Regions from separate parts of the Homo sapiens genome. Here all the other regions are linked to region 1. The links come from fine-mapping of genetic effects on gene expression. A gene starts in region 1. Each other region holds a variant in brackets. All regions are shown on one strand. Distances are from middle to middle. Region 1 holds the start of TOP3B (DNA topoisomerase III beta). Region 2 overlaps PPM1F (protein phosphatase, Mg2+/Mn2+ dependent 1F). Region 3 overlaps PPM1F (protein phosphatase, Mg2+/Mn2+ dependent 1F).

What was found. PIP is the estimated chance that this variant, and not a neighbour inherited with it, causes the effect. A credible set is the group of variants that fine-mapping cannot tell apart.
Region 2: its variant is the best candidate, but not a certain one, in a credible set for the expression of TOP3B in lung (TOPMed, PIP 0.55).
Region 3: its variant is the best candidate, but not a certain one, in a credible set for the expression of TOP3B in whole blood (INTERVAL, PIP 0.90).

Annotation. Positions count from the first base shown.
Region 1 is chr22:21,981,559-21,984,311 of GRCh38, reverse strand. It overlaps TOP3B (DNA topoisomerase III beta), which reads left to right and starts at 1,525. Exons shown (of 18, transcript NM_001282112.2): 1 at 1,525-1,582. RefSeq lists enhancers at 1,346-1,640, 1,138-2,124.
Region 2 is chr22:21,926,185-21,928,937 of GRCh38, reverse strand. The region is part of intron 6 of PPM1F (protein phosphatase, Mg2+/Mn2+ dependent 1F); the gene reads left to right. Among named protein-coding and RNA genes, the nearest start is that of PPM1F-AS1, 11 kb to the left of the region's middle. The variant C/T (reference allele first, on the strand shown) is at 1,409.
Region 3 is chr22:21,941,928-21,944,680 of GRCh38, reverse strand. The region is part of intron 2 of PPM1F (protein phosphatase, Mg2+/Mn2+ dependent 1F); the gene reads left to right. PPM1F-AS1 (PPM1F antisense RNA 1) reads right to left here. Exons shown (of 2, transcript NR_147620.1): 2 at 1,247-2,753. Among named protein-coding and RNA genes, the nearest start is that of PPM1F-AS1, 5.1 kb to the right of the region's middle. RefSeq lists an enhancer at 247-746. The variant G/A (reference allele first, on the strand shown) is at 1,092.

The DNA.
Region 1 (2,753 bases):
AAATAAATAACTTAATTTTAGAATTCATCTTCCAGATATACTTTACACAGATCATTCCAATAAAGGCAGGTTGGGGCCCGGGACAGTGGCTCACCCCTGTAATCCCAGCACTTTGGGAGGCCGAGGCAGGAGGATCACTTGAGGCCAGGAGTTTGAGACCAATCTGGGCAACATAGTGAGACCCTCCCCCTAGACCCCATCTCTACCAAAAAAAAAAAAATTAATTGGCTGGGCTTGGTGGCTGGCACCTGTGGTCCCAGCTACTGGGGAGGCTGAGGTGAGAGCATCGCCTGACGCCAGGAGATCGAGGCTGCAGTGAGCTGTGATCTCGCTACTGCGCTCCAGCCTGGGTGACAGAGTGAAACCCTGTCTTTAAAAAAAAAAAAAAAAAAACAGCAGGTTGGGAAAATCTACAAGGAACAAGGGCAATGTGTGTATGTTATTTAAAATAAGATCATAAAACGTATTTTAAACCTTCCATAATCCTAATGCTCTAACAAATAAATTAGTTGGCCGAGCGTGAAGAGTCACACCTGTAATCCCAGCATTTTGGGAGGCCGAGGGAGGCGGACCACCTAAGGTCAGGAGTTCAAGACTAGCCTGGTTAACACGGTGAAACCCCCGTCTCTACTAAAAATATAGAAATCTTTGGGAGGCCAAGGCGGGCGGATCACGAGGTCAGGAGATCGAGACCATCCTGGCTAACACGGTGAAGCCCCGTCTCTACTAAAAAAATACAAAAAATTAGCCCGCGTGGTGGCAAGCGCCTATAGTCCCAGCTACTTGGGAGGCTGAGGCGAGATCATCGCTTGAACCCGGGAGGCGGAGGTTGCAGTGAGCCGAGATTGCGCCACTGCACTTCAGCCTGGGCAACAGAGTGAGACTCCGCCTCAAAAAAAAAAAAAAAAATATATATATATATGTATACACACACATATATATACATACACATATAAATTAGCTGGGCGTGGTGGCGCACGCCTGTAATCCCAGCTATTTAGGAGGCTGAGGCAGGCGAATTGCTTGAACCTGGGAGGCGGAGGTTTCAGTGAGCCGAGATCACACCACTGCACTCCAGCCTGGGCGACAAGAGTAAAACTCTGTCTCAAAATAAATAAATAAATAAATAAATAAATAACTTAATTTTAGAATTCATCTTCCAAATATATTTTACACAGATCATTCATTCATTCCACAGATTTTTTTACAGCATCGAAAAGAAGCCTGCTATACACACATCGGTACATTTTTATTATTTTAATTATTAACAGCATAAATGTTTTCATGCCAGTTTTCATAATCATTGTAATGATAATTGTCATGATTGTCTCTCCGTGGCGGGGAAGAATCTGGGTGCAGGGCTTGGGGATCCCTGCGGTCCGCGGCGTGCAAGTGCCACTCCCTGGGGTGCTCCCGGAATCCGCGAGCCACGGAACCTAAGAACGCCGACCCGCCGGAGCCGGAGGGCAGACGCTGGCACACCGGACGCGGGGACGCCAGAAGCGGCTGGACCCGGAAATAGGGGTTGTCGGTAGCCGCCCCGGGAACAAGGACCGGAGCTGGATCCGCGGTGCGGCTGTGGGTGAGCGGCGGGCTGCGGGACCCTCGCCCGGCGGCTCAGAAAGGCGGGAAGCGCACGCATTTTTCTGGCTTGTTTCCTGAACGTTGGCCGGCGGAGGACCCGCGAGCTCGGGAGAGCGCCCGGGCCGGGCTCTGCATTCTTGTTGCCTCTTCCCTGGCGGGGGTGATACTCTCCCGCGGGGCTTGCTGTGGGGGTTCAGGGAGGTGGAGATGGGCCCGCCATGTGCCTGCAGGGAGCAGGCGCTGTGGTTAATACTTTTCTTCTTCGAACCCTCCCACAGCTCTTTAGGGTGAGATCTGCTGTACCAGTCTCACAGGTAGGGAAACTGAGGCTCAGGGAAGCTGTGCAGCCACCGGGGCCCAGATCGGTGCGGTACACACCCAGGCAGCTTCCACTCGCCGCCCCCTAGGCCCTGGCTGGGTTTTGAGGGCACCCAGGTTCTCTGACCTGTTATCTGTAAATGAAGTAGGGTACTTTTGTGAACAAATTAGCTGGAATCCAGGGGCAATAATTTCTCGCAGAAGTGAAAGGTAAGATGTTCCTAGTCTTGCCTTTTTATCTTCTCACCTTTTGAAACAGGACCTGAGAGGCCAGCCTAACTTGGGCTTGATGGCCAGCCAGTCCTGGGATTCTTTTGCCAAGGTCACCTGACACTAGTGTGACTTGTTCTGAACCTCCATTTACTCACAGTTTTAAAAAATTACAACACCTGCCTTATGGGGTTGCTGGCGAGATTGAATAGTGTTGATAGCTATGGTGTGCCTACTACAAAGGAGGAGCTTAAGAAATGGTTGTTTCCCTCTTTTCCTGATTCTAGAAGCATTTGGTAAAGTTACTGAGGTGGTAAATCCTAGGAATTTTAATGCTATTCAGACCACTGCTAGGCCTACTCCCAGGCCACATCTGCTTGTTTCTTTTTTTGTTTGTTTTGTTGCAGGCAGAGTCTCACTCTGTCACCCAGGCTGGAGTGCAGTGGCGCGATCTCAGCTCACTGCAACCTCCGCCCCCGGGTTCAAGTGATTCTCCTGCCTCAGCCTCCTGAGTAGCTGGGATTACAGGCATGCGCCACCACGCCCAGCTAATTTTTGTATTTTTAGTAGAGACCAGGCTTCACCATGTTGGCCAGGCTGGTCTTGAACTGCTGACCTCGGGTGATCCACCTGCCTCAGCC
Region 2 (2,753 bases), 55 kb after region 1:
TTGAGGCAGTGAGATAACACAGGACCCACTTCCTGCCTCTAAGTCTAATGGGGGAGCAGGAGGAGGGCAAGGACCTGGCAGGATGAGGCAGAGAGATGAATGGAATGGAGCCGCATCTCAGGCAGTTGCAATTCCTGCAGGCCAGGGGAGAGACCAGGAGGAAAGGGCAGGTTATGCCAGAATCAGGGCCAGGTGTGGAGGTGTGCCCCAAGTGATCCTCCCACCTCTCAAGCCTCAGGAGACAGGAGGATGGCTTGAGCCCTAGAGGTTGAGGCTGCAGTGAGCTATGTTCATGACACTGCACTCCAGCCTTGGCAACAGAGTGAGACCCTGTCTTCAAAAAACAAAAACAAGCCCCAGAATCAGTGGGTAGAAGACTCGGGGCAGGGGAGAAGACCACCCACCTGCTGCTCCTTCAGCTGGAAAAGCTGGACTGCCCCAGGCTGGGAGGAACTCTGTAAGGACTCACTAGAAGCTTCTGAAGTGATCAGGCCACTGGAGGACAAGTTGAGGGCTGGGTCACAAAAGTGAGTTCAGGAGGGCAGTGAGAGTCACTCAAGGTCACAGGTCACGCTGGCACGCCTGGCAGGCAGCCTGGGAGAGATAGGAGTCCCGGCTCTGCAGGTGGAGACATCGCAGAGGGCCTTGGGCATCCAGGAGGATGGCAGTGCCATAGGCGACGCTGCTGCGGCCTGGCCGTGTGGAGCACTGCACTCCTAGGAAGCAGGAAATGGCTGTTCACAGGAACCCACAGGCCACCGGCTCCAGCTTTGACCTGGGAAGCTGTTTCAGGCAGGTGGAGAGGATGAGGTTTGAGGAGCAGAGGGAAGAGCTGCTGAGGGGGTGGGCGCTGGGCAGTCGGGAGGCGAAGGCAGGAGATGGCTTGAGCCCTAGAGGTCGAGGCTGCAGTGAGCTATGTTCATGACACTGCACTCCAGCCTTGGCAACAAAGCAAGACCCTGTCTCCAAAAAAAAAAAAAAAAAAAAAAAAAAAACAAAACAAAAAACAGAATCAAGAATCAGTGACTAGGAGACTCAGGGGGAATGGGACAAGACCCCTTAGCCTGGGGATATGTTAGTCCCGGACCAGACTGAGCCTGGCCAGTGTGTGACGGAGGTGGGAGCCACTGGAGGGGAGGAGGACCCAGGTTCAGGGCCAGGGTTAGAGGGGCGAGCCCGGGGAGCCGGCGCAGCCTGTCCAGCACAGGGGGTGCAGAATGGCAGGAGAGGGGATCACAGGCTGCAGGGGAGCAGCACAGCCCCTGTGCCCTCCTGCCCTTTGGCTCCACCCTGTCCCACAGCCATCCCTGGTGGTGGGGAGGGGCTTCAGGTAGGAAGGTTCTAAGCTTAGCCTGCATGGCCCCCTGTGGGGGAGAGCCACCTCCAGAGGGCATGGGAAGCAGATTGC[C/T]GTTCATTCTCCATCACCTGCCCACATTCCTGCCTCTGGGACATTGAGGGGCTGGAGTGGGCTGGGGTGTGTGGGAGACAGAAGCAGAGAAAGGCTCCTCATTCTCCCTGGAGCCTCCCACGCTCACAGCCCCTCCCCAGGGAACGCCTCTGAGGCACAGGGGAGGAGGCGCTGCTTCCTCTGCAGCTCCTCGCCGTCTGCAGGCGCCTTCACGCGTGTGTGTGGGCACATGTATGTGTGAACATTCGTGCGTACTCTGTGTTCATCCACCTGCCTCTCCCCGTGCCCTTTCTCCTGCCCTCTTCTTGGCTGTCTCCTGCTCTTCCCTCCTTCCTGGTCCTCCTTGCCTTTCCCTTGCCCTGCTCAGACCCCGGAGGTGGCAGATCTTAGACCCAGAGAGAGCCTTGAGGTCCCTGTTCCTGCCCCCTTCATGGCTTGATTCTCCACCTCAGCTGGGACAGGAGCACCCAGCCTACCAGGCACTGGTCCAGTTCCCACACAGGCTCATGGCTGCAGTGCCCAGGAAGGCCGGGACTCCTGCAAACCCATGTCATTCCCACCACAATGCCCTCTGCAGGGGAGCCACATAAAGAGGCCTGGTCCTTGGTGCAGGCATCTGGAGAGGGCTGCCTCCCCCAGGCCTCCCGCAGTGCATGTCCGTCTGCTCTGGGGAGGGAATTGGCTGATATCCCAATCTGTCTAGGGGACACCATCACCTGGGGCATCAGAGTTCTCATGCCCAGCTGGTGCTGTGCCTGGGGACTAGAAGGGCTGGTGCTGCGTGGGGTCAAGAGGTTTACCTGATAAACCGGTAAGGGATGCCCTCTTCCCCCAGTAGACTTGGGAGGTGCCTCACTCCCAGGGTGCCTCCGTCACTCTGTCAGGGATGCTGTTGTGCAGGCTTCAGTCAGCAGGCTCTCATCGGGGCAGCCTCTCCTTTGGGCAGAGGCTGATAGGACCAAAGAGGTTTCTAGAGGACTTGTGGGTGGACCAAGCCTCTGTCCTGTCCCTGGAGGAACCCAGGCCTGGGGTGTTGTGGTCCCCAGCTGAGTGGAGACTGTGCCTGTGCTGAGCTTGGGTAGAGGAGGACAAGAACTAGGCCAGGCGCGGTGGCTCACACCTGTAATCCCAGCACTTTGGGAAGCCGAGGAGGGTGGATCATGAGGTCAGGAGATCGAGACCAGTCTGGCCAACTTTGAGAAACCCTGTCTCCATTAAAAACACAAAAAAATTAGCTGGGCATGGTGGCACGCCCCTGTAGTCACAGCTACTCAGGAGGCTGAGGCAGGAGAATCACTTGAACCCAGGAGGCAGAGGTTGTAGTGAGCCAAGATCGTGCCACTTC
Region 3 (2,753 bases), 40 kb after region 1:
AGTTAGGCTGTCTGTCTGGCACAGGGGACAGCTCATGGAGGTGAGCAGGCTGGTGGGCCGCGTGCTGTTTCTGTGAACCTAGTCCCTTGCTGAGGGGATGTGCGCATGGTCCCCAGTCCCAGCATCACCCAAATCACCTGAAATATCACCTGAAGCCATGACAGGCCCTCAGCCATAGCTCCCTCTGACAGAGCCACCATCCTCGGTGGCTGCCTCAGTATCCCCCAAGTGTGCACTTCCTTTGCCCCTTGCAGCGAATCAACTCTGTTCCTGACACCCACCAAGGGCCTATTTTCCTTGACCCCAGGCCCTAGCAGAGTCAGTGACTTGTGCTCTCCCTGTGCAACATGGGCACAAACATTGCTAAGTGTCAGCCACATGCAAGGGCTATGCCACCCAGCATCCCCCACAGCTGCCTAGAGCTCAGGAGGAAATGTCCGGTGACCACGCTCCATGAGGTCATGGCATGCGCAAAGGGTGTTATTGGCTTGTTTTGAGGAAATATTTTAGATATGTGGCACAAAGTGAATCAGCCCCCAGTGGTGGAGCAGAGTGGGCCCAGCAGGGGTGCCAATGCACGGGAGGTGAGGAAAGGCCTCACGTTCTGCCTTCTTGAGAGGAGCAGGTGGCACTCTGCAGGGAGCAGGGGAGTCCAGACCAGGGAGTTCTGCAGCCACTGGGTCTTCGTGGAGGTGGCATGGGGCCATTGCTGCCTTGAGGCAAAAAGCCAGGCCCGGGACAGAAGGGTTGGTGCACTTTGGCCCAAGCATGAGGTGACCGGGCAAAGCCAAGCGGTGCCAGCCCCAAGCTGGGGATCAGATGGAAAAGCCATCCCGGGGAACAACAGAGCCCAGGGGTTTGCTGGGCCTGCGTGGGGCACAGGTGCTGAAGACGGACAGGCCGCAGCACCGGGGTGACAACATCAGCCTTCAGTTCCTGGGCAGGGGGAGAAGGGCGCAGAGCAGGGTCCCAGGGAAGGATCCAAGGTGGGAGGGCCTGGAGGGCTGAGGAGTGAGTAGGCAGTGCAGGTGACCTGCCCAGGAGGGCCCCGAACCAAAGTGTTGGGGTCAGTGCTGGGGGCGCAGGGGAGG[G/A]CAGTGGGTTTTGGTTTTGATGCGAGAGCAGCCAGACTTGTTGAGCGGCTGCTGTGTGAGCCACCTAGTGATGGGTGCGAGCAGGAGGGGTGCAGAGCTCCCGAGTCTCCTCAGCCCCCAGGAACCCACCTTACATGGTGAACTAAAATGGAGTATTTGAAGTTGTTATATGTTCCAGCCATCTTATTGGATTTATTTTTTAAGTTATTTTTGTTCTTTTCTAGCATCTTCTTTCACACGCAGGTGTGGATGTGCATAGGTGTAGTCAGCACTTGGGGTCTGAGCCTCACACGTTGTCTACACTAAGCCTGGCTGTCCACACACACGCACTCACATGTGCCCATACACAGTCACGAGTTCCACCTCCGAGCTCTGCTTCCCGTGTCCCAGCCTGAGGAGGGGCTCTTGGGCATGAAGGGCTTTGAGCATCTTGGTCCCTGAGCTCTTTCACAGACCGTAAAAGGCATCCTTCTGGAGGCCATCCAGGAGTCAGAACATCCAGTCCACAGGGGGCTATTTACGCCTTGTCTCCGCTCTTGTTTGGAGCCTCCTGTCACATATTTGAGTCCCTGAGCAGTGCATACCGTACACTAATGATTTGAGTGTGGTTTTTGTCTCTGCCACTAGACTATAAGCCTCTTGTAACAGCCCCTGCCCCAAGGTCGGTGAGACGTGTTTCTCAGGCACCTGGGCCTTGCATACACCTTGGCTTGTCCCTGGAGCATCTTCTTGCCTTGTGTAGGAGCCTGCTCTGCAGGGACCAGAATCAGGGTGGATCTGCATGGTGCAGTGACTCAGGGCTGAGGGCCTCTAGGGCGTGTCCCAGGCCAGACCCTGGGATGAGGCGGGAGCTGTGTCCAGGAAGAGGACGATGGTGGCCCTTGGCCAGGCATTGTCTGGGTCCCCACAGCCGGAAACTGCCTCCCTGCCCCAGCAGCAGTGGCGGGTGGGCAGGAAGCTGAGGCCTGGCCTCACCGGGACCAAGGGAAACAGGCGTCCTTCCTCCCTGCTGTGCAAAAGGAAAACCCAGCAGTTGGCAGGAAACCCCCAAATGGCAGAGGAACTAATTTCTCATGTCTTGGCTGGTTGTTTTTCAAAGGCAGTTCCAGAGGCTTCTCCCATGAGTCACCCTTTCATTTTAAAAATCACGAATCTGCTGAGCATGGTGGCTCATGCCTGTAATCCCAGCTACTCAGGAGGCTGAGGCAGGAGAATCACTTGAACCCGAGAGGTGGAGGTTGTGGTGAGCTGAGATCACGCCATTGCACTCCAGCCTGGGCAACTAGAGCGAAACTCCGTCTCAGAAAAAAAAAAAAAAAAATCAGGAATCCATCCCGGTAGATTCCTCAGACCATCAGTAGATACCTTGGGTGCCCAGCCCCCATGGAACAAGACCTGTCAGCCTGTGCTGTTGGAAGGTCCTCGCCTTCCAGTTAAAGCCGGGAGTGTCGGCCCAGTGCAGAATCACCTCGCCACCCCAGGCATGCTCCCCTGACCCCCACTCTCAGGGACAGGCACACAGGGGTGAATGTGTGTTGTCCAGCTTCCAGGGCCCCCACTGGGTGAGAAGGCAGATTCCAGGGGTCAAAATGCATGTTAGAGGCCATAGGGCCACTGAGGGAGCGACCCCTTCTGCCCAGAAAAGCCAGGGATGGCTCAGAA